Linked DNA regions of Homo sapiens: regions 2 and 3 are each linked to region 1. Evidence: fine-mapped expression QTL. A gene starts in region 1. Each other region holds a variant in brackets. All regions are shown on one strand. Distances are between the middles of the regions.

What was found. PIP is the estimated chance that this variant, and not a neighbour inherited with it, causes the effect.
Region 2: its variant is fine-mapped to the expression of TAF1D in whole blood (TOPMed, PIP above 0.99).
Region 3: its variant is fine-mapped to the expression of TAF1D in unexposed skin (GTEx, PIP 0.97).

Annotation. Positions count from the first base shown.
Region 1 is chr11:93,737,930-93,746,112 of GRCh38, reverse strand. It overlaps TAF1D (TATA-box binding protein associated factor, RNA polymerase I subunit D), which reads left to right and starts at 4,618. Exons shown (of 6, transcript NM_024116.4): 1 at 4,618-4,791; 2 at 6,782-6,876; 3 at 7,614-8,004. The coding sequence starts at 6,809. C11orf54 (chromosome 11 open reading frame 54) reads right to left here and starts at 4,441. Exons shown (of 9, transcript NM_001286069.2): 1 at 4,385-4,441. RefSeq lists enhancers at 2,689-3,228, 3,749-3,868, 3,635-4,320, 4,449-4,958, 6,996-8,183.
Region 2 is chr11:94,223,802-94,231,984 of GRCh38, reverse strand. All of the region lies in intron 3 of LOC105369435 (a long non-coding RNA gene), which reads right to left. Among named protein-coding and RNA genes, the nearest start is that of IZUMO1R, 77 kb to the left of the region's middle. The variant C/T (reference allele first, on the strand shown) is at 3,047.
Region 3 is chr11:93,520,423-93,528,605 of GRCh38, reverse strand. The region is part of intron 1 of SMCO4 (single-pass membrane protein with coiled-coil domains 4); the gene reads left to right. Among named protein-coding and RNA genes, the nearest start is that of SMCO4, 19 kb to the left of the region's middle. RefSeq lists enhancers at 1,229-1,278, 1,659-1,828, 1,859-1,958, 4,407-4,506. The variant A/C (reference allele first, on the strand shown) is at 3,117.

The sequences.
Region 1 (8,183 bases):
ATTGCAAACATTTAGGATGTTATATTTACTTTAGTACTTTATCAAATACCAGCTTTTATTGTTCTTGATTTAATACATGTAATCTAATCTCCCAAATATATATAACTGTTTATTAACGGTCCCAAATTTTTGAGACGGAGTCTCGCTGTGTCACCCAGGCTGGAGTGCAATGGCATGATCTCGGCTCACTGCAACCTCCGCCTCCCAGGTTCAAGAAATTCTCCTGTCTCATCCTCCCCAGTAGCTGGGATTACAGGCATGTGCCATCATGCCCGGCTAATTTTTTGTATTTTAGTAGAGACGGGGTTTCACCATGTTGCCCAGGTTGGTCTCAAACTCCTGAGCTCAAGCAATCCACTTGCCTCGGCCTCCCAAAGTGCTAGGATTACAGGCGTGAGCCACTGCACCCGGCCCCCAAATCTTATATAATCATACTTAAATTATTTTAAACATAGTTTTGTGTGGGGAAAAGAGAGCTCAGACTGTTACTGTGTCTATGTGGAAAAGGAAGACAAAAGAAACTCCGTTTTGATCTGCACAAAGAAAAATTGTTTTGCTTTGAGATGCTGTTAATCTGTAACTTTAGCCCCAACCCTGTGCTTACAGAAACATGTGCTGTATTGAATCAAGGTTTAAGGGATTTAGGGCTGTGCAGGATGTGCCTTGTTAACAATATGTTTGCAGACTGTATGCTTGGTAAAAGTCATCGCCATTCTCCATTCTCTATTAACCAGGGACATGATGCACTGCAGAAAGCTGCAGGGACCTCTGCCCAAGAAAGCGTGGGTATTGTCCAAGAATTCCCCCCACTGAGACAGCCTGAGATATGGCCTCGTGGGAAGGGAAAGACCTAACCGTCCCCCAGCCTGACACCCATAAAGGGTCTGTGCTGAGAAGGATTAGTAAAAGAGGAAGGCCTCTGTTTCCCGCATATCCCTGGGAACAGAATGTCTCCGTGTAAAGCCGACTATTCGTTCTATTCTGAGATAGGAGAAAACCACCCTGTGGCTGGAGGGGAGATATGCTGGCAGCAATACTGCTCTGTTACTCTTTGCTACACTGAGATGTTTGGGTAAAGAGAAACATGAATCTAGCCTACTTACACATCTGGGCACAGTACCTTCCCTTGAACTTATTTATGACGCAGATTTCTTTACTCACATGTTTTCCTGCTGACCTTCTCCCCACCATCACCCTGTTCTCCCACCGCAGTTCCCTTGCCGAGATAGTGAAAAGTAATCAATAAATACTGAGGGAACTCAGATACCAGTGCCGGTGCAGGTCCTCGCATACTGAGTGTGCCCGTCCTCTGGGCCCACTGTTCTTTCTCTATACTTTGTGTCTTATTTATTTTCTCAGTCTCTCTTCCCACTTGACGAGAAATACCCACAGGTGTGGAGGGGCAGGCCCCCTTCAGTTTTGGGTTGAATAATTTATAATTGTTCAGGAATGAGACAGTTTAACTTTTTCTTTTAAATAATTTCAGATTGACAAATATTACATACAAATAATTCCTATACATTCTTCACCCAGATTTCCCAAATGTTAACATTTTATCACATTCTTTATCAAGCAAACATTGGGTACTAACTTATTTATGAACATGTCAAAATCTGCACAATGAATAGTATATTCATTTATAATGATAAAAACACTTTACATATTTTTGCTGGCAGTAGGAATAAGAACACAAGTTAAAATCCAAATGTAATCTTAATTTTATTCCCTTTATTATCTCTTTAGTAAAAAGTTAGGTCAGTTGTTTCCGTTTATTTATGTCCCTACCAAAGTAGAAACAAAGTCCAATCTTGGGAGGATGTAGCTTGAATAACTGGTTTAGAAATGTACTTATTAGGGGTACTTATTAGGGATTAGTGGATAAGTGCTTAAATGGTTGTGGATAACAGTGCATATAGGACTCTCAAGTATTTCTATAACAGACACTTGTGCGTTCTACTCTATATTTGACATTTAGACAAAAAAATCAAATGAGTTCCTTAGACTATCACTTTTTCATAATAAAATTTAAATTATGAAGGCCCGTCCAATTCTAAAATGATGTGAACTTCAGGCAGGCTGATGGCACAGCAGGCAGTGTGGTAGCATGTGTATGTGAGTGTTTATGTGTGTGTTGGAGGTGGGGAGAGGGTTACAGTTGGAGCTGAGAAAGGAGTTAGGTTCTCACATAAACTCCAGGAATACAGCCTTGGGCCAGATGGAGGCAAACAGTATTTTCCTGCCTAATTGGTGGGAGTCGATGGCCCAGAAATAGGGTCTAGAAGGGAAACGGAGCTGCAGAGGTTAACACCTGGAGGGGTAGACCAACTATCGCAACTAAACTGGTTACCATTTGAGTGCACACTATATACCAGACACCGTTAGACACTGTGCAGACGTTCTCTCAAAACTTTTCACAACCATGACAGGTTGTAAGACAGGCTGTGGGTCTTCAGGGGTCGCGGGCATCCCCTAGACACAGCCGCAGGGCCTGCATGGAGTTCGCTCCTACCGGCGACCAAAAGCGCTCGCTCCGGCTCCAGCATCTGCTCACCCCCACGCACCCTCCCATAAAGGGTGGAGCGCAGCAGGCCTGGGTGACTGGAGTTCGTGGCTTCCAGCACTCCAGTTCCCGCCTCATTCACTCGCGCCCCCCCTCCCGCGAGGAGTTGAGAGCCGTGGGCTAAGTAAGTGAGGCACCGCAGCCGCAAGACCCACGAAGGGGTCAGAGGAATATCCTGCTTCAACTGCACTCCAGCCTGGGTGGCAGAGCAAGACCCTGTCTCTATAACACAAACAGAGAAATACCAAATGTGGCCGGGCGCGGTGATTCACGCCTGTACTCCCAGCACTTTGGGAGGCCGAGGCAGACGGATCACTTGAGGTCAAGAGTTCGAGACCTGCCTGGCCAACATGGTGAAACCTGGTCTCTACTAAAAGTACAAAAATTAGCCGGTTGTGGTGGCGGGCGCGTGTAGTCCCAGCTACTTGGGAAGCTGAGGTGGGTGGATCTCTTGAGCCCGGGAGGTGGGGGTTGCAGTGAGCTGAGATCGGGCCACACTGCACTCCAGCCTGGGCGACAGAGCGAGACTCTGTTTCTAAAAAAAAAAAGAAAAAAGAAAAAATACAAAATGAAATGTGAAATTTCAATGATTCTGCATTAGGAGTTAAATGTTCCTTCCCTTTAATAGCACTTTTCCCCTTCTTTTTGAACAAGGGACGCTGCATTTTCATTTTGCATTGAGCCTCACAAATTACACAGCTAGGCTTGCTGCTGAATACGGCAGTGAGGGACATGCCATACCAGTCCTGGAGCTTCGTCATTGCCCAGACCCTGTGGATCAAATGCAGTGGGCTGCCTAAAGGATCGGACTTTTTATCCCCGGAATTGTCCAAACTATGGAGCAAAGCAGGTAAAGAGACCAGATTACTTTTAAGGCCCGTTCAATCCTAAAATGTGAACTATAAAATAAGACTAGACAGCTTTACTGATTTTTGTGGTTTATCATATGAAAACAGAATTTTGAAAGCGGAAAAATCAAACCAGTTCATTCCTTTTTAAAATTACTTTGGGAGGCCGAGGCGGGAGGATCACCTGAGGTCGGGAGTTTGAGACCAGCCTGACCAACATGGAGAAACCCCCGCCTCTACTAAAAATGCAAAAATTAGCTGGGCATGGTGGCGCACGCCTGTAATCTCAGCTACTGGGGAGACTGAGGCAGGAGAATCGCTTGAACCCGGGAAGCAGATGTTGCGGTGAGCCAAGATCGCACCGTTGCACTCCAGCCTGGGCAACAAGAGCGAAACTCGGTCTCAAAAAAAAAAAAATTACTTTGGGAGAAAAAAACCCCACCAAAACTAAACTAGTTTACACTGTTTAATCTTAACTCAGGAACCGGTCAAGGAACTAATGGTGTGGGGCAGGGGGGATGTAGGAGGAAACTTAGGAAAAACAAATCCTCCACAGGTCTCACTTGTGACATGTTAGCCAACTCCTGGGAGGCAGAAAGGGTGAGCTTACGAAACAGGTGCAAAAGTGGGGAGGAGACCTGGGCGTGCTATGGAATAACACTGGCGTCCAGCACAAAGGTTACACACTTCGAGTCATGGTCAAAGAATGAGCCTTCTCCAATATTTTAACACACAAGGGTTTCTGAAGGCAGAAATAGACAAAGGATTACAAAACACTCAGGCACACATCCCACCCGTCACCCTCGCCACACACCCGGGACCAGATTTAGAAAGCCAGGCGACAGCTCAGCAAACGCGAGACCACCGGAAACGAACCGGGCTGAGAGGCTGTTTCCTCACAGTTCTCATCCACTCACAAGTGACCGCACGTTTTGTTTTTGTTATTTGCCGAAATGTTCTTGGCTATTCCACTCACCTAAACGGTCACGGTAGCAAAACACCCAGAGTCCGGATCTTCGCCTAGGCCAACCCCGCCTCCTCAGAATACGCGAGCTAGAGCTCCGCCCACGTTAGTCAGTCCTCCCTGCGCGGCGAGAAAAATGGCGCCCCCACGTCGCGTCTCCTCCCACCGCTCGCCTTCTTCCCGGAAGCTAAGTTGTATCGCGAGATTTCGGCCTGACTATTACTTGGGCCACGGAAATAGCCAACCCTTTTCTTCCGCACGGTTGGAGGAGGTCGGCTGGTTATCGGGAGTTGGAGGGCTGAGGTCGGGAGGGTGGTGTGTACAGAGCTCTAGGACACCAGGCCAGTCGCGGGTTTTGGGCCGAGGCCTGGGTTACAAGCAGCAAGTGCGCGGTTGGGGCCACTGCGAGGCCGTTTTAGGTAGGTTGCTAAGAGGGCGAGGCCGTCCGGGCCTGGCGGGCGGGGGAGGCGTTGCATATCTGGGGTTTCCCGGGGCCCCTTCGTTGGTCCGGAGGATCGAGACTCCGAAGTCGGTCCGAGAGGGTGAAGGGATCACGGCCGCAGGCCACTCCGCGCCACGCGGCTGGTATGAGTCCCACACAAACGTGGTTGTAGTGTGGACGGGCTTCATTATATCTTGAGATGGAGGTGTTAAATCGTGTTGCGGACAAGTTTAACCTTATTACGTGATTTAAATGATTTAACCTTCGTATGTGAGGTACCCATTACTCGCGCCGGTTTTCTGCAGGTTAGGCGCTGCCGGGTGAGAGGCGCTGGTGGTCACAGCGTTAGCTCCGGGTAAAGCGCCGCTCTCTGCCCACGTGGCCTCTAAGAATTGCAGAATCCCCACGGAGGCATCGACACCCAAGTAGGAGTGTCTTCTAAACACTTCGAAAAAGTGATTATTGAGCTAGCTTTATTTTGATAATCCCTACTTTTAAAAAAAATTAACTACAGGTATACCGTTAAAGCATGGGGGCAAATTTTTGTTGAATTCCGTTTTTGAGCATTCGATATTTAATGACTTTGTAGAATCTTGTACTTAAAAAAACTAGTAAGACCTTGTACCAGGAAAATACCACAGGGGGCATTTAACAAATCTGAGCTCTTGGTGACCTTATCGTTTCATATTTTAAATATTTTGCTAGTTCATCCTAGGATTTATATGTAATGACTCATGTCAGGTCCCAAGAAGCTACAGAATGAGACAAGAGATTGACTAAGGCATGTACAATAATGAAATAAGTAGTTATCTTTAATTTTTGTTGCCATGCCTTTTTTTTTTTTTTTTTTTTTTTTTTTTTTTTTCCTGAGACAGGGTCTTGCTCTGTCGTCCAGGCTGGAGTGCAGTGGTGCAATCTCGGCTAACAGCAACCTCCACCGCGGCTTAAGCGATCCTCCCGAGTGGCTGGGAGCAAAGGCACGGGCCAACACACCTAGCCAGTATTTTAAGAATTTTTTGTAGAGACAAGGGTCTCCTTGTGTTGCTGAGGCTCACTACATACAAGCTCCACCTCCCAGGCTCAGGTATTCCACCTACCCCAGCCTCCTGACCACAGGCGCGCGCCACTATTCTGGCTAATTTCCGTATTTTTTGTAGAGACGGAGTTTCACCACGTTGCCCAGGTTGGTCTTGAGCTCCTGGGCTCAAGCGATCCGCCCGCCTCGACCTCCCAAAGTGCTGTGTTACACAGGCCTGAGCCACCCAGACCAACCTGTTTTTCTTTTTTCTTTTAGCTCACAAGAAGGAATCTTTTTCTTTTTTTTTTTTTTTTTTTTTGGTATGTTGTATACTCTCTACCATGGGGATGAAGACACAAGAATTATGATAGTTCATTGAAAAAGGTTGAGAATTCAGAACTTGTCAGTTTCCACCAATAATGGCAAAGATACAATATGACAAAGTTCAGTTGCTTAAATGAATCTAGGAATGAAGAATCTAGGAATTATAATGGAGAGGTGATTAGGAGTTTAAAATGGTTTATTGATTGGAGATCCTTTTCCTGGTTTATATAGGGCACACTTTGCTTTAGGAATTCCCCCTTTGATCTTGGAAAACGGCTTTTAATTGTACATTAATACTGTATTGGTAATTGTACGTTAAAATATGTGGCTAATGATAAAACTACATTTTTTACTTATATTGAAAGATGCTTTTGTTGGAAGGGACGGTACTTTTTTGGAATCTTGTTGCGTTGAATACATTTAGAGGGTAACAACTGAAAGAACCTGTGAATAGAATTTCTGGATTTCTTTTTAAAGAAACTGATCTGAAATGGATAAGAAGCTTAACCTTGGTAAATGATTTCGCCTGAAATCATTGGCATAGTCTGACCACGTTCAACACTGTAGTAGATACTGTCAATATTTAGGGAAGCTTTGTCATATTTACTAAATTTCATAATTTCAGAAAACTGTTTAAAACAAAGAGCAATTGATGGATAAATCAGGAATAGATTCTCTTGACCATGTGACATCTGATGCTGTGGAACTTGCAAATCGAAGGTGAGTGGATTCAATCATGTTTATTGTATCTGAATTATGAGAAACTATTGTATATAATGAGTGACAGTAAAGATAATTTTCAGGAATTGGGAAAGAAGGAAAACTAGATTTCACTGACCTTCCAAGTTTATCTAGTTACATAGATTGATATAATAGCATTGCAAATACTTTAAATTCAAAATGTGAATATATTATGGGACACATTCGTCGAGAAAAAATGTATTCTTTGGGTCATATTAGCATCTCTTCCAGACTACATCCTCCGGTTCGGTAGGCTGTGTTTGTTTTACTCAGACACTCTTAGCAGTGAACCGAACCATACAGCCTTTTGGAGCTCATACATTGTCTTGAAAGATACAGTTTTTTTGTAAGCTGAGCATAGTGGTGCATGCCATTAGTCCTAGCTAGCTACTTGGGAGGCTGAGGCAGGAGCATCCCTGGAGTTTCCAGGAGTTTGAGGTTGCAGTGAGCTGTGATTGCACCACTGCACTCCAGTCTGGGTGACAGCAAGACGATGTCTACAAAACTCTTTAATAAGAGCTGTAGCATTATGGGCTATTTAAATAGGATGATCAGTAGAAAGGCTAGCTGGTTCTGAGCCCATCCTTTAAAAAATTTTTAATTCTGGGCATGTTTTCTGAGTTGGTCTTGGAAGAAATGTACATTTAGGACTGGGTATTAATGGTAATAAGCAGTAAGAAAAGAAGATGAAATTAATTTTTTTCCCATTTTTCTAGTGATAACTCTTCTGATAGCAGCTTATTTAAAACTCAGTGTATCCCTTACTCACCTAAAGGGGAGAAAAGAAACCCCATTCGAAAATTTGTTCGTACACCTGAAAGTGTTCACGCAAGTGATTCATCAAGTGACTCATCTTTTGAACCAATACCATTGACTATAAAAGCTATTTTTGAAAGATTCAAGAACAGGAAAAAGAGATATAAAAAAAAGAAAAAGAGGAGGTACCAGCCAACAGGAAGACCACGGGGAAGACCAGAAGGAAGGAGAAATCCTATATACTCACTAATAGATAAGAAGAAACAATTTAGAAGCAGAGGATCTGGCTTCCCATTTTTAGAATCAGAGAATGAAAAAAACGCACCTTGGAGAAAAATTTTAACGTTTGAGGTGAGTCAGCATTTTACATACATGGCTACACATAACTCAAGATGCCCAAAATGATTTGTTGGCCAATTTAGAATTGTCTCAGATATACTGGGAACAGACTGTCTGCAATTTTGATACTCTTCTATACTGACTTACCCCTAAAGTCCACCCTATCCTTCAACTGAATCTTGACTTGTATC
Region 2 (8,183 bases), 490 kb before region 1:
TATACACCTCAAGGCTGGCTGTACTCCCACTTAGCTCCTGGTGTCTGTCCATCCCGACCCCTGGTACCTGGCAATCCAGGCCTCTCAGGCTGGGTGTGACTCTCACTCCCACTCTCTGCAGCCGGGACACTCCATCTCCATCTAACTTTGTATGCTATTGGGTGTGATTCCCCGATTGCTTCAGGAAAGTCTCACTTCCTTAAGGAGATTTTAAACTCATCCAAGTCAGAGTCTTAATCTATTTCCGGGAGGGACTAGCATACTATTGAGCATATAGCAGTCAGAGCCTCAATGTCTTTATCTGTAAAATGGAGATATCTGTAAAATTGCCTGTAAAATAGAAATATATATAAAATTTATAGGCACAGAAATTCATATCTTATTCCAAAAGAGATACTTGACATGATGTATAAAAAGTGCCCAGGAAGATCTAAAACACAGCAAGGACCCCATAAGTGGTAGCTATTATTGGATCCATTGAAACCCAGGCATTATGACTTCTGGACCAGTGTTTCTTCTAGATCTCAAGTCAACATGACCTACCAGAAAATAACAGTATCTGAGTCATTCAGAGTACTAATGATGTGGCATCAGGAGCCCATCAGCCATGTCAGCCTGCCTGTGTACCTTATGCTAGGCCAATGCTTAACTCATTCTATGAAAGATGCAACTGGCTGGCATTGGCCTTCCTTTTTCTCTTCATTCGGCCTGGATTTTCTGAGAAGACTGTGAGGACCTGCTGTTCTGGACAGTGTGTAGGATGGGCATCTTGTTTTGCCACTCAGCAGGAGGAAGGACACATGCTTTCTGTTTTGTCGTCAAAGGAAATAACAACTCTCAGATGTTGCAGTGTTGCCAATAGAGAGAGAATGCAGAACTGCCCCAATCCTGCCTCAGTTTGTCTCTTCTCTTAAGAATCAATAGTTGTCAGACTGGAAAAAGCAGGGTCATACTAGCTAGACCCTATAGAGATCCAAGAGCAAAAAAGACCATAAGAGAGTTCAGAATTCATCTAAGTGACCTTGAGGCTCCCCTGATAGAATAATTCTCACTGTGCTGGGAGAAGTTGCAGATGTAATTGCGGATCTTTTGTTAGTACTTTGGGGGAAGTAGTGGAAGAGAAGATCAAGACAAGGGAGACCACTGTTACCCTGTTTTAGTTAAAGTGACTCTAGCTGCTGTATGCTAAACCTTGCAGTCTCTGTGACTTAGCACAATATGGGTACGTCTCCCTAGGACACAGTCCGGTGTGGTGGCATGGCCCAGCAGCCTTCAACATCAACATTCAGGTGCCCAGTCTCTTTCCAACTGTGGCTCGGCCTTCCTTATGGTGGTCCCATTCAACTGGTAAATGAGGAGAGAGACAAAGAAAAAGGTACACCCACCTGCTTCTGTCCAGAAATGATACCTACTACTTCTGGCCATGTTTCATTGGCCAGAGCTCAGTCATATGGCCACAGCTGATTGCAAGAGACATGGAAAATGTGGTCTAGTTGTGTGCCCAGGAGGAAAGGGAAATGGGCTGGATACGACAAAGCAGCAAGCCAAAACATAAAGCTAACTGAAATACAAATGCATTAGTATAAATTAAGTATTCAGAATTTTAATGTTGATGTCCCAATTTATTTCAAGCTGGTAAAGACAACCCTTGAGTATTTTGTTCCACTCAAGATGCTACACGAACAGAGACATTGAAATACTGGAGTGTATCAAAAAATGAGTGCAATAATCTGAACACTTGAGTCCCCCCAAAATTCAAATATTGAAATCTAAATCCCAATGGCATGATATTGGAGGTGAAGCCCTTGGGAGGTAATTAGATCATGAGAGTAGAGCTTTTATCAATGGGATTAGTGTCCTTATTAAAGAGACCCCAGAAAACTAGCTAACCCCTTCCACCATGTGAAGACACAGAAATAAGGCACCATCTATGAACCAGTTAACAGTTCCTCACCAGTCCCTAAATCTGCCAGTGCCTTGATGTTGGACTTCCCAATCTCCAGAACTGTAAGAAATAAATTTCTGTGGTTTATAAATTAGCCAGTATATTAGTCTGTTCTCACACTGCCAATAAAGACATATCCAAGACTAGGTAATTTATAAAGGAAAGAGGTTTGACTGACAGTTCAGCATAACTGGGGAGGTCTCAGGAAACTTACAATCATGGTGGAAGGGGAAGCAAACACATCCTTCTTCACATGGCAGCAGCAAGAGGTGCAGAGGGAATTGGGGGGAAAGTCCCTGATAAAACCATCAGATCTCTTGCGAACTCACTCACTATCAGAGTAACAGCATGGAGGTAACCACCCCCATGATTCAATTACCTCCCACTGGGTCCCTCCCATGACATGTGAGGATTATGGGAACTACAGATGAACTACATTTGGAACTACAGATCGCAAATGTCCCCTCCTTTGTGAGCCTTCTCTGTGGCCCCCAGGTAGTCAGAAAATCCCATTCTCTGTATTGTTGTGTCACCTTGTTTGTATATATAAGGATCCAACTCCATCGCTCTTCTCTTGACTTGAGCCATGATGGCTCGTGACCTGGGACCATACTTTATTCTCCTGGAATCTCCAGCAGCTAGAACAGAGTAGGCTCTTAATCACTGATTATTGAATAAAAGATTTCTGGCAGGGAATCATCTGAATTAATGACACAGCCCTGGCTTGCCCTGCCATGGAGATGTACCACAGTTTCTACATTCCAACCTGGTGAGAAGCTGATCAAATATACATTTTAAGCATAATTAATATAGAAAAAGAAAGAAAATGCCAAGTGTTGATGAGTATGTGAAGGAACTGCAACTTTCATCGACTGCTGGTGGGCTGTATAAATTGGTACAATCTCTTTGGAAAACAGCTCAGCCATATCTCCTAAAGCTGAACATATGTATACCCTATGACCCAGCATTTCACTCCTAGGTGTGTAGCCAATAAAAATGCGTATATCTACTCACCAAATGACATGTTCTGGAATGTTGAAAGCAATACTATTTATAATAGTCACAGACTAGTCACTGCCCAAAAGCCCATCAAGAGTAGAA[C/T]GAATAAATTATAGTATAGGCTACAGCAATAAAAATGAACTATGACTACACACAACAATGTGGATGGACCTCACAACTATAATGTTGAGTGAAAGAAGTTAGACAGGAAAGTGTCTATATTGTTTTATTCTATCTATATAAACTACAAAACAGTCAAGTTGGAGTCAGAATAGTGACTTCCCTTGGAGGTGAATAATGCCAAAATAGGATAAAAGAGTTTTCCTGAGTGCAGATAATGTTTCTTCATCTGACAGTTGGCTGTAAGAATGCATTTGTTTGTGAAAATATATTAAGTCGGAATTTTGACTTATGTTTCTTTTGCTGTGTGTATATTTTGATAAGAAATTGTTTTAAATATTAGTATCCTCAAACCACAAAAGTCTCAAAGAACTTGAGACTTCACTGTGCCTAGATAGGTCTTGCATATGGTAAGTTCCAGAAAAAAATAATTTGGAAAATGTTTATTTAGCCATTGTTATGTTTAAGACCCAAGCAATCCAAAGATGAATAGGACAAAATCCCTGACCTCAAGCAACTGATAATATTGTTTAGAATAAAGCAAGATCTCCGATTATAACATGGCTAGAATGCTGTCAGTGGGATATGGGAAAGGATGATAACAGCTAGCACAAAGTACACAGGTACTATGTGCTTTATGCATATTAATATTTCATTTTCATAGTATCCCTAAATATAGATATTACTATTATTCCCATTATATAGATGAAGATATTGGGGCATGGAGAGATTGAGTGCTTTGCATCATCTTCTCTGTTCCTCTCCAACTTACTATCCTCTAATATTCAAGCTCCTCTTTGCTCTGTTTTCATCACAGTAGTCTCAGTTTCTCTAGGTGGGTCCCCTACCTCCTGCCCAGGACTTTGCAGACACTATTTCCTCTGCTGGAACCATTCTCCCTCCTCTAAGCCCTGTTATCGTCCACTCATTTATTAGCTCTCTACAAAAACATCACTTCCTCAGGGACTTCCAGATAGGTACAATCTGACTGTTATAGGTTCTCAAACACCATATGCTTACTACCTTCACAGCATGTCTCAGCTGAAAATTTACATATTTTTAGTGAGATGATTTTATTAAGACTTTCTTTATCCCTAGACTATAAGCCTCATGAGAGCAGGAACCATGCATGTTTACCACTGTTATCTCAGTAGCTAGCATAGTAGATACATAATAAATATGTGCTGAGTAAACGAGTTAAGTATCCACCATGGCCAATCACTATATTTTTAAGTGATACAAAATTTAGAGCAAGAATTAAATATAAATGACATGATATCATCTGGTACAATTTTCATTAATTAAGTGTAATCACTGCTTATTCTTCAAAGCCAAGCAGAACATGTTCTTCTAACTTACTCTGAGCCTTTTCATTAGAATAATAAATTTTTAGAAATATTTAGAAACACATTCAGAGGTCTGTCTACAGCCTGTTTTCCACTTTCCTGTGGTTTTCTTTCTTGCTCTGGTAGGAAAGAGAGTCTTTGAGTTGCCTGCTTAAATGTTCTCAAGGGAAAGGCCTTAGTTGTCCTGCCAACCCCTTTGATCTTTCCTCAAGGCAGAAGCAGAGAGATAAGACTGTGGGGAAAAAGATTGAAAGCATAGCATATGCCTATATATCAGCAGTGTGCATCCCAATAATTGTGTTTTTCCAGTTATTGGTTTTCCCAACAGTAGACTGGGCTACCATTCTAGAAACTTTTTCTCCCATAAGATGGCTTAAAATTCCCAGAGAAATAGTATCTTCAGTAAACTCTTGGGTTTCCAGAGGTTATAACTGGGTCTCTGACTCTGCTTTCTTGATTTTAAATGTAAGTTTTTTGCTGCAATCAAACAGAATATAATAACATTCTCAAAGAGAGACAAAAAAGCAGTTGTCCACTGTAACTGTGCTATGTTAGGAATTTTATCTGATCTAAGAGTCAAAGGCTATTCCTGGTGTCAACCAAAGTGTCTTCTGCTACATCATCAAAGCTTTTTATGATGGGTTTCAAGTTTGTAGGGTACTGATGCTACAAGTTCATCACCTTTTCCACATGTGAATACACCTTCCTGTAATCACCCAATCTTCCAGGGAAGCAAAAAATAAAAATAAATAAATAAATAAAAAATTCCATTAGAACATTCCTTCGCCCTGTGCAGTACCTGAAATGTGAATTTCCAACTAGAAGCAAAAAGTTAAGATCTATAGTTTTATCCCAGCATCCTTCCAAAGGGCTCAATATTTGGGAAACCAACACGAAAAACAGTGCAAAGGTGCCACCAGTCCAAGTGAGCATAAATGCTTCCCTAAGGGATTCTTGGAAGATCCTTCCAGTCATCAAGGCTGTGCAGATAAGATGCCCACCTCAGCCCCAGTGATCACTCAAGTATCTGCCTGGTAGGGGCTTAATACAAAATCTGTCCTCCAATTCCAAACGCCTGCTTCATAGGCAGGGGCCTAGGAGATTTAGCAGCTTTTGTAGGGGGGAACTTGAGGCCAGATAATAATCGATATCCAGTCACCTTATAGGGAGCCAATACATTTTTGAGAGAGAAAAATGTAATAGTATCTTACTAGGGAACCTCCTAAGGCCCTCCTTCTTAGCAATCATACTAGAACAGTAAAACAAGAACAAACAAAAATTCATAAGATTAAAACAAATCTCCCCAACTACTCCCAGAGAACAAACACTGACATTTATCCCAAGTAGGCCTTTTTTTGCCCTACTCTTTGAGAACATAATGGGATCTTTGAGTGGTGGTTTCTTTCTTTGAGGAGAGTCCTCACTCACATAAATTGCTGTTAAGTTAAGCGCTCTGCCAATCTCTGAATCTGTGGCTCAGCATTAGGACAGATGAAGAGAATCTAACTCTTTAAGAATACTTGCTATCTGTCCAGTGTTCACATCTGCAGTTTTACTTTTACCTCACAACTACCTGAATTAGAATGGAAGCCATGAGGCACATATTTCTGTCTAGTTTTTCCACTGCCATATCCCTGGCACCTACAATAGTATCTGGCAAGTAGAAGATGCTCAATAGAAACATGAATAAATGCAAGCATATTATTATGGATACCATTATTCCTGATTTTCAGTTAAAAAACTGAATCTCAAAGAAATTATGAAACATATTCAAAGTCACAGGTTTTGTGAGTAGCAGAGGCCTTTCTGATGCCAACTTTTATGCTCCTTCAACTCTGCCTTTCAAGGCTCATTCTTCAATTTCCCTATCCAAGAAAGCTTCTTTTCTCAATGTTTGTCTTCCTTATCTTTCTCCTCCTTTTTCCCCTCCTTCTTACAAGCTACACCACACTTATAGCCAGTTTATTCTTTTCTTTCTCCTGTGCTTGTTCATCTGCGCAAAGAGGGGAATAACCTCCACTCTTATGGAGAAAGAAACCTCCTTATGACAATAAGGAAGAGAGAGGTCTGAGCTGTAAAGGTGCTGTACCTACTGCTGAAAACATGGACTGCTCCTAAATGTGTGATTTTTTGTGTGTGTAGTCACCCATCCAGAGAAACGCTTGTTAGACCTCAATGCCAGACCAAGGTTTCTCCTCTTGAACTACTGGTTTGGTTTCCTTTTGAAGATAGTCTGATTCTTCTTGCTGATTCTTTTTCTGTCGTCATTTGCTCACTACAAACCTCAACGGTGGGAACTTTACAATGTGTGCTTCTCCTCACCAAAATTGGTAGCCTTTCCTTCAAAATTCACATCCACTTGGATTCTCAGAATGTGACCTTACTAAGAAATAGGGTCTTTGCAAAATGTAATTAAACTAAGAAGAGGTCATACATGATTAGAGTGGGCTCTAAATCAATGGCTGGTGTCCTTACAAGAAGAAAAACAGAAACAGACAGAAATACAGGAAAGAAGGCTGTATGACGATAGAGGCGGAGACTGGGATGATGCAGCTGCAAGCCAAGGAATGCCTGGGATTGCCAGTGACCACCAGAAGTTAGGAAGAGGCATAGCAGGATTCTTCCCTAGAGCCCTCAGAGGAAGCATGGCTTGCCTGGTACCTTGATTTTGGACTTCTAGCCTCCAGAACTGTGACAGAATAAATTTAAGCCACTCCATTTGTGGTACTTTGATATGGCAGTCCTATAAAATTAATACAGGGAGTCTGAAACATCTTGTTATGCCAGAAAGCAAGGAATCTATCAAAAACCAGTAGGACCTTTTCAAAAAAACTCAGGAACTAAGTTGAGGAGCCTCCCACTGGCCAAAGATGAAACAGCTTGAACAACAATAAGGATAAAAACTAAAATGAATTTAAACATGTTAAGTATGTTTAAATTCATGATTTATAATAATACAGAATTGGTCATTGATCATCTTTGGAGGGTGCTCTAAACCCTACATATTATTTGAAAACTGGCAAATAAAAGGAAATAAGCATATTTCCTTTTTTCTTCTGGGTAACAAATAGTTAATGAAATGAAGCTTCTCTATATAAAAACAAAGAAGGAACGATAGAATAAGAGCATCAACATTTGTAACCCCTAAGGAATTAACAGATCTAAGTCATGATCAGCAACAGCTGCTGGCATCACAGAAAGAGAAACGGTCGGAACTTATGTGCTTCCTGAAGGAAATACTCACCACCACTTATGAAATGGTCTGCACACACACACACACACACACACACACAAATGTGAATCTGATTAAGTCTCTAGATTTACCTACCTATTTGCAAAAAACATAGAGAACAGTGAAACATGTTCACCATGACAAATGAAAAATGGCATCATGAAGATGAGTCAGCAACATCAAGGCTGTGGGAAATCCTATAGGAATAACAACTTGTTTTCTTCAACAAATAATTGCAAGGAGAGGAAAACAGATGAAGGGTGTATTACTAGATAAAAAAGACATATTATTCATAGAAATGAAAAACAATGAATGGCTCTTAATTGAACCTGATTCAAACAAGCTCTATCTATCTATCTATCTATCTATCTATCTATCTATCTATCTAGCTAGCTAGCTAGCTAGCTATCTATCTATCTTCTATCTATCTATCATTTATCTATCATCTATCTATATAAAGAAAAAATTCATGGACAGAATATTTTAAATTTAAAAATTATGATTAACATTTAGGTAAAATAAATTCATTATAGCTTTTTTG
Region 3 (8,183 bases), 220 kb after region 1:
CCGGTTTAGGCACAGGGAACATGAACTTTTTATCCCAGCCAGCCTGATAAATACAGGGCTTCCCCAGAACTCAACATGCTTCAGCCCTGGTGCTCCCTGATGGCCTGTCTGGCCAGACCCCCAGAGTTCTTGCTTTCTGGGCCAACTTGGAGGCAGAGACGAGCAGGTGGTGGAGGATTTGGCTAAATCTCCATTCTGGCTCTGGAGGCGGGTGTCTCCAGTTGCTCAACCTGATCTCCTTGTTCTTTTCTCAAGTTTCACACAACTTTTTATCCTTTCCTTGAACAAAGGCTTTTTATTTCTGGATGATGTTGTGAGAAGTTTTTGTATTTATAAGTAAGGCAGAAAAGAATGGATCATAACTACAAAATTTTATATCAATTACATTCCAAATTTGTTAAGAAATATCTATGTGTAGGAAAAAGACCATAAAGTACTTTATTTTAGTGGTCATCTCTGGATTTTCATATTATAGGAGGGCTTTTTAAGCATTTTTTTTACAATGAGCATGTACTGTCTTTATAACTATTAAAATTATTAATGATAATTAATTATTATTTATTAGGATTTAGTATGTGCCAGACAATGTAAGAACTTGCCATTACAGTATCTTATTTAATTCTCACTGTGAACCTATGACATTCCTATTTTAAAAAAACAAAATATACTGGGTGTGGTGACTTGTACCTATAGGCCCAGCTACTCAGGAGGCTGAGTTGGGAAGATCACCTGAACCCAGGAGTTTGAGGGCTACATAGCAAAACCCATCCTGTTTCTTAAAAGCAAACAAATATTAACCTAATTTTTGTTATTGTGGTGAAATATACGTAAAAATTGCTTTTTTAGGCTGGTTGTGGTGTCTCATGCCTATAATCCCAGCCCTTTGGGAGACTGAGGCAGGAGGATCACTTGAGCCTAGGAGTTGGAGACCAGCCTGGACAATATAGTGAGACCCCATCTCTACAAAAAAATTTTTAAAAAATTAGTTATGCGTGGTGGTGTGTGCCTGTAGTCCCAGCTACTTAAGAGGCTGAGTTGGGAAGGTCGCTTGAGCCCAAGAAGCTGAAGTTGCAGTGAGCTGTGATCATGTCCCTGCACTCCAGCCTGGGTGACAGTGAGACCATGTCTCAAGGAAAAAAATTGCCTTTTCAACTATTTTTAAGTGTATAGTTTTGTGGCCTTAACCACATCCCCTGAGAGATTTTTTTTTGGAACCCCTTATGTGATAAATGAGGACGCTGAGACTTACAGAAACAAAGCTACCTGCCCAAAGTCACAGAGCTAGTCAGCTTCAGAGGCAGGATTTGAACCCAGAACTGACATACTCAGAAAGGTCCCAGGTTCCTGGGATCTGTGGTATATAACAGTTGGAGTCCATGATCACTCTTCTGCCTCTGCCCACCATTTGACAGTAGAAAGCCATTTGCTAGTGTATGTCTCTTTTTTGAAACTCTAGGGGTTGGATTGTGTTTGCCAGTGAGGTGGTGGTCAGCCCGATTTAGGGTGTGTGGCTGACGCAGGTGCTGCCTGTCAGCGGTTGCCAAGGTTGGTTTGTGAGCTCTGTTGTGTCTTGAGAAGGTTGAAGAGTGGGCTGCTGTACTGAGAGGGTTGTGTGTCGGAATTCTGTCTCTAGAAGGTCCTCAGCAGTGCAGTGGAAAGGGCAATGGCCTAGAGCTCAGATATGTGGCCTTGTCAGGTCTGGGTTATTTTGGAGAACACACATTGAACTTGGGAATTAGTCTGTACTTTAGTCCTGATTGTGCCGTGTGGTAGACATACTTAGGCTTCCATTTCCTCATTTCTCAGTGAGTGATAAAAATGCCTGTTCCACCTGCCTCCCAGGATGGTGGTGATGATTAAATGTCATGATGTAGGGAAAAAGTGCTGAGGAAACCACAGGGCTCTCAAGGAAGTTTCTCTGATGAGAATTTTGAGTGTACAATGGTGCGTGAGAACAGTGGGGCTGACCTTGGAGATGTGAGGAGGATGGATGCGGATGTGAAGAGCAGCAGGTTTGCTTTATTTCATTTTTGTTTTTGGCAGCAGCTTGTTTCCTCTACCATCGCTTCACTGGTGAAGTATAATGTTCCACTGTCTACCTGGTGTTGTACTGCCTAGTGCTGAATGCTCTAGGATTTCACTGGAATTTGTCCCTGCCAAATTCCTTGGATTCACTCTCCCCAAAACTCTCATCTCTTTGGTGAAATGAGTTGTAATTTAGGAGATCATTCTGTAACTGCGGTGGTTGAAAGTACATAGCAACTTTCCCTGGTCTTGTTTGTCTTCCTAATTTTTTTTTTTTTTTAGCAAATATTTGTCTGTTTCTGTTCTCTAATCTTGAGCAGCCAAGCGTGTGAGTGGGCTGGAACCTGGTGGTCTGCCCCTGGGGAGGGGAGGGGGTCCCCCTTGGGTGGTGCTTGCTCTTCATTGGACCCTTTCTGTGCTTGATGCTTTGTAGAACATCAAGGTACAGTAGGCAGAATCCCTTGTTTTATGGGAAGATATGTATACTCAAACCAATATGAGTGTTAGGGATAGACAGCTTGAGAAGTCCCTGTCATGAGAGGTGTAACCCTCAGTCCAAGTGGATGAAGATGGATTATTGGGGATAGTCAGAGAGGATAAACTGTTGGCAGGACTTCTGTGACTTTTTGCTTTTTCACAACTGTTTGAATCAGCTCTTTCCAAGCTGGGGTTTCTGTCCAGCTATCCTGAGATAATTTCTTGAGTCATCACTGTTGCAGTGCACGTTTCATCTGACAGGAAAGCAGGGGCCCATGCAGGGCTCTGCTGAAGTCAGTGGCCCTGTCTTGTTTTTTGGCTTTGAGAATGGTACTCGAAGACTAAGTAGGTCACAGATATCTATTTTGAATTGAGTATGACTGGGCTGCTTGGACATCTAATTTCCGGATCCAATCCTGTTGGTCGCGTTTGCCCAGGAGTTTGGCAGCAAGCACTCTCTGGTTGGTCGTAGGGTGTATTTATAAAGTGGGAAGAGTCTGGAGACACTGCAGTTCTCTATTCCTGCAGGAGAGCCAGGAGTGGGTGGGCTTCAAAACCCTTTAGGAATGGGGGGAGTGGAATTTTTCCACCTCACTTCCTTAAATTTTCTGAAA[A/C]TTGCTGATCCTCACTAACTCTATGGAACTTTTTTCTTTCAAGGAATCAAATTTAATTTTTACCCAATATTAGCTGGCCTCTGCTTCAAGTTGGATAATAGCTTCAGTTGCTGTGTGCCTTGCCTTTTATGCAGATTATCTCATTTAATCCTCACAACAAGCTCAGAAAGTGGTTATTATTTTCTCCATTTTACAGAGGAAAAGACCTGAGAATCAGTGGGGCAGTAATTTGCTGACAGACCCAGTGTGTAAGTAGCAGTGCTTGAGATTCAAACGTAAGATCTTCTGATCAGAGTGTGGCCTTTTGCTGCATAGCACAGTGGTCTCAGGAGCCCTGGGAGGTGTTCTGGCCACAGCTGGAAGTGGCAGCAGGAGCCCTGGGAGAGGGTATTCTGACCACAGCTGGGAGTGGCAGTACAGTAGTGGCTCCTTGGCCCATTGTGGGTTGAGTGCAACCTTCCTCTGAGTAGAGGCCAGCTGTGGGTGTTGGGGATGTGGGCCGCCCAGCCCAGGGAAGCATCTGTCTTTGTGGAACTGGAGTTATGTTTTATGATGTCACTCTGGTGTGACTGGATCACAGAATTCTGAGTTTATACCCTTTGTTGGATTTTTTTCCTGTTTCACTATTTTTCTGTGGGTCCTTGCCCAAGACCTTGGATGAGTGCAGTGAGCAGGCGAGATCTGTGAGTTAACATAGGTGGGGAACGCATTGGATGCACCACCTCCTCTGTGTGCACTGGCTGTTGACCCACCATTCCTCATCATCAGTACTCCGTGCCTTCCCTGCATTTTGGAGGACTAAGCACTTTTGTAGCGGGGAGTGTGTGTTTTGCCTTTCTCTTCAGTTTGTCCCCATAAGCTACTTCCAGGGGCCTGGCAGTAATGCTGCTGCTCCAGGTCATTTGTGTTTGTGGAGTGTCAGAGTTTTCAGGACTTTGCCCAGAAAGTCTTGTCCAGTGCTCCCAGGGAGTGGTCGTCATCATCTCCATTTTACAGATGGGGATTCTTAAGGGAAGTCACTCTTAGGTAGCATACTTCTATACCATAGCTTCCCCTGTAAGTTTCATAAAACACAACCGAGAAGATGCCTGTTTAAAATCAGCTTGTATTCCGAAAGTGAAAGAATGCCCTCTTCAAATGCCCTGGGGATCGTGTACACAGTAGGGTTCTCTTCTCCCTCAGGAATGTGTGGTCCCATCCTAGGTTCCCTCCCGGCCGTTTCCTGGCTTTGTGAGCCTGAGCTGGTTACTGAACCTTTCTGAGTCTGTGTCCTATAAATTGGTGATGATAGTACAATCTAAAAGAGGCTGTGGTAAGATATATATGAGATAGTGTATGTGAGATCACCCAGGCTCAATGTGTTGTAATCGCTTGTTTTTATTTTTCAACCAGGATGGCTTGAAGAAAATACAGATCTCAGCTACAGAGGTTGAGGCCTGAGAAACTCCCCTCCCCTGAAGGGCATTAGTAACTGATCTTCCCTGCACACTTCCTCCCCCAAAACAAGAAGGAGAGGATGAAGCTTAAAAACCCTGTTTCAGCTAGAATCTTTCCAAGGTTTTCTCATTCTTTTGGTTTTGGAATGGGGTGCTGATATATGCTTCATTTACTGGAAACCAAAACTAAGGAAGTCCATGTTAACCACACAGCCTCTCAGAAATGCCCAGTATTTTTAAAAATGAGGAAATGCCAAAACACGATTTTAGAAAGCGGGGTATTTTAAATTTACATATTGGACGTGTCAGCACTTTTAGCACACACACTTTCACTGATTGTATAATTATCTTGAAAAGACTTAAAAAACTAAATTTGAGGTTTTCTGGTCTCATTTCTTGCGGGGTCTTGCTCTGTTGCCCAGGCTAGAGTGCGGTGGCATGATCTCAGCTCACTGCAACCTCTGCCTCCCAGGCTCAGGCGATTCTCCTGTCTCTGCCTCCGGAATAGCTGGGACTACAGGCATGTGCCACCATGTCCAGCTAATTTTTTATATTCTTGGTAGAGATAGGGTTTTGCCATGTTACCCAGGCTGGTCTTGAACTCCTGAGCTCAAGCAATCCACCTGCCTTGGCCTCCCAGAGTGCTGGGATTACAGGCGTGAGCCACTATGCCCGGCGTGGTCTCACCTCTTCAAAGACCTAATCAGCGTCTAGTGGGTAAGTCTTTTTGTTTTTTTTGAGACAGGGTCTCACTCTGTAACCCAGGCTGGAGTGCAGTGGCGTGATCACAGCTCATCTCCTGAGCTCAGGAAATTCTCCTGAGTAGCTGGGACAGGCAATCCTCCTACCTCGGCCCTCCCAAAGTGCTGGGATTACAGGCATGAGCCACCGTGCTTGGCCAGCTCTTACATTTTTGGTCACCTAGTGACAGACCTTTTTTCCCTTCTCCTCTCTCTCCTTTCCACATTAGTTTTTATGTTTGAGCCTAGACAAGTATAGGGGAAATTCCAGAGGAACCAGCAAAGTGACCTGCAATTTTTGATCTTTGGGGTTTCCAATTTTGTGTATTTGCTGTGTGATCTTGAGCAATTCTCTTACTTCAGGTCTCAAGGAACTTAGCATCTCGTAGGGGAGATAGAACTGGAGTTGATAGCCCTCTTATTGCTGTGGCTACAGACAAGGATTCTTGTCCTCAGTGTGGTGGTAGTGGTTTTTAAGTCTTTATGTGTTATAAATTAGAAGTTTGCAAGGTGTGGTTTTTGACACTAAGGGAATTGCAAATGGGATCAAGGACTAGACTTCCCTGCATGAGACACTCTCTCATCAGACACTCTCTCATCAGACTCCCAGACTTATGTTATACCACCTGGTGCGGTCAGTTACAGTTACCTGTTTACCTGGCCACCTGCCTAGATTAACAGCAAGCTCTACAATGGCGGAGACTTGGCCTATGCCCTGTTATATCTTAGGCATCTTATTTATTGTACTTCCATGTGGAATACAACGGATGCCTGCATAAAAGATTTGAAGGATTTCGAATCACTTAACATGGTAGCAGGCCGAGGGGTGGAATTGGCTACCACAGGTCTTGTGTTGCGTAAACTGGTCGTGCCACATGACCAGACTTGTCTCCCTTCCTCCCATGCCCACAGCCCCTCTGCTGAGAAAGACAGAACCAGTACCAGGTAGGTCCCTTGTAAAAAGCCAGAGGGGTGAGTGGAATTATCTTCTGTTTTATAGACCAAGATCTGGAGAAGTCACATAGCTAACATGCCAGAGAGTCAGCATTTGAATGTGGGCCTGCAGGAGTCCACTTTTTATACCCTTCACAGATCGGATATGCTGGTGCATCTGCCCCTGAGGACATATTCAGCGATACAAATCCAATTAACCCGATAGCCCAAGAAACTTAAACTAGTCTGAGGAAGAACTTCCTGACATTTTGTTTTTGTTTTGTTTTAAAGTTTGTGCCAAAAAGGGGCTAGAGTTGGGGCTTTTCAAACTGTTAATCACAATCCACAGTCAGAGAATTGATTTAGTGGGTTGATACATTTTTAAATGAAATAGAACAGTGAAAAATAACAATGTGTGACACACAGTAAGGCTGTGTGTAGGTGCATCCCTCCCAGGCCATAATAGAAATACACTTCTGACTGTGGATCAATGATCAAAATATCTGAGAGAGATTATAGCTTCGATTGGTATTGGCTAGATTGCGAAGTCCTTGGCGGCAGGGATGTTCTCTCTTTTATGTTCCCTTCATCCTTAGTCCAGTACTGAGTACTTAGCTGATTGGTTGGTCTGTCTGGGAGAATTTGTAACAGTTCACCCCTCAGACTGGAAGAATAGTCAGAATGATGTTAAGGACAATTTGCAGAATACTGTCTCTGCAAGGAAATGACAGGTATTCTTACCCTTGCTTTATGAATGAGGAAAGCAGAAAGACACCGAGTGTGATAGTTAAGAGCTTGGGGTCTAAAGTCTGAGAAACCTGTGTTTGAATTCTGTTTGTGCAGTGTCATGGTTGTGTGACTTTGGGTAACTTTTTTAAGCCTGACTTTGTCCATCTTTAGGCAGGGTATGATGAGGGTACCTACCTCAGGTATTATGACAGTTAGATGAGTTAGCTCGAGTTTAGTGGCTTTAGCACAGTGCCTGGCATCTGATAAGCAGTTAGTAAGCATTATCTGCTGCCCTTCGTTTTATGATTAAGAGAGATTAAGTGACTCATGTTGGGTCCCAGGGCACCAGCTGGAGCCAGGCCCACTGCAGGAGCCCCTTCTAGAGTTGCAGATCTGTGATGGTTATTGATCTTGATCTAAACTTGTAGCTCTAATCTGTGGTTTGGCTGTGGCAGTGAAAGGAAGTGAATGTTGCAACAGAGCAGGTGTGTGCATACAAAGAGATGTCCTGGTTTTGCCAGTTAGAGAAAACAGCATCTTCCAGAGATATGGCTGCATGTGGAATCTGAGAATATAAATGACATTTCTTAGGAAAGCCAGGTGCTTTGTATTTTCATCAAAAACAACAGTTTCCTAAAACTGAATATAGCAATGTATAGGCTTAAACTGGTGGTTTTGTGTCGACACAGTGATAATTTTAGTGGAAACTCCAAGATTTGGTAAATACTGATTTCTGAAATCACTCACTGAGCCTAGCAGCACCACTGTGCACTTAGAACGAAGTCCTTGAAAATACGTGACATGCTGAAGGTGAAAGGCACTGGACAGAAATCCCAAAGAGACTTGGTTTTGGCTTTAGCCCCTAATTTGCAAGTCTGGGTCTCTGTTCAGTTCTCTTTTCCAGGCTGGAGAGTTTTGAGCCTTCTTTCTCCTTAAAGTCAAAATAATTTTGTTCTTTATATCCCGAAGTGTTGATTGTCTTTGTATCTTGATAGGAAAAGGTAGTATATGTGAAAAATTATCTAATGGTCAAAACTTGCTGGTTTATACTTTAGTTGAAAATAGCCTTTTCTGCCTTGTTTGGAAGCAATATAGTTTAGGGATAGTTAAGTATAATGGTCAAGAGCAGAAACTTTTAGCTGGATTTAGGTTCCTGTCCTGCCTGTGCTTCCAACAAGGTGTTTGACTTTGGTGCCTTAACCTCTCTGCACCCTGTGTGTAAAGTGGGT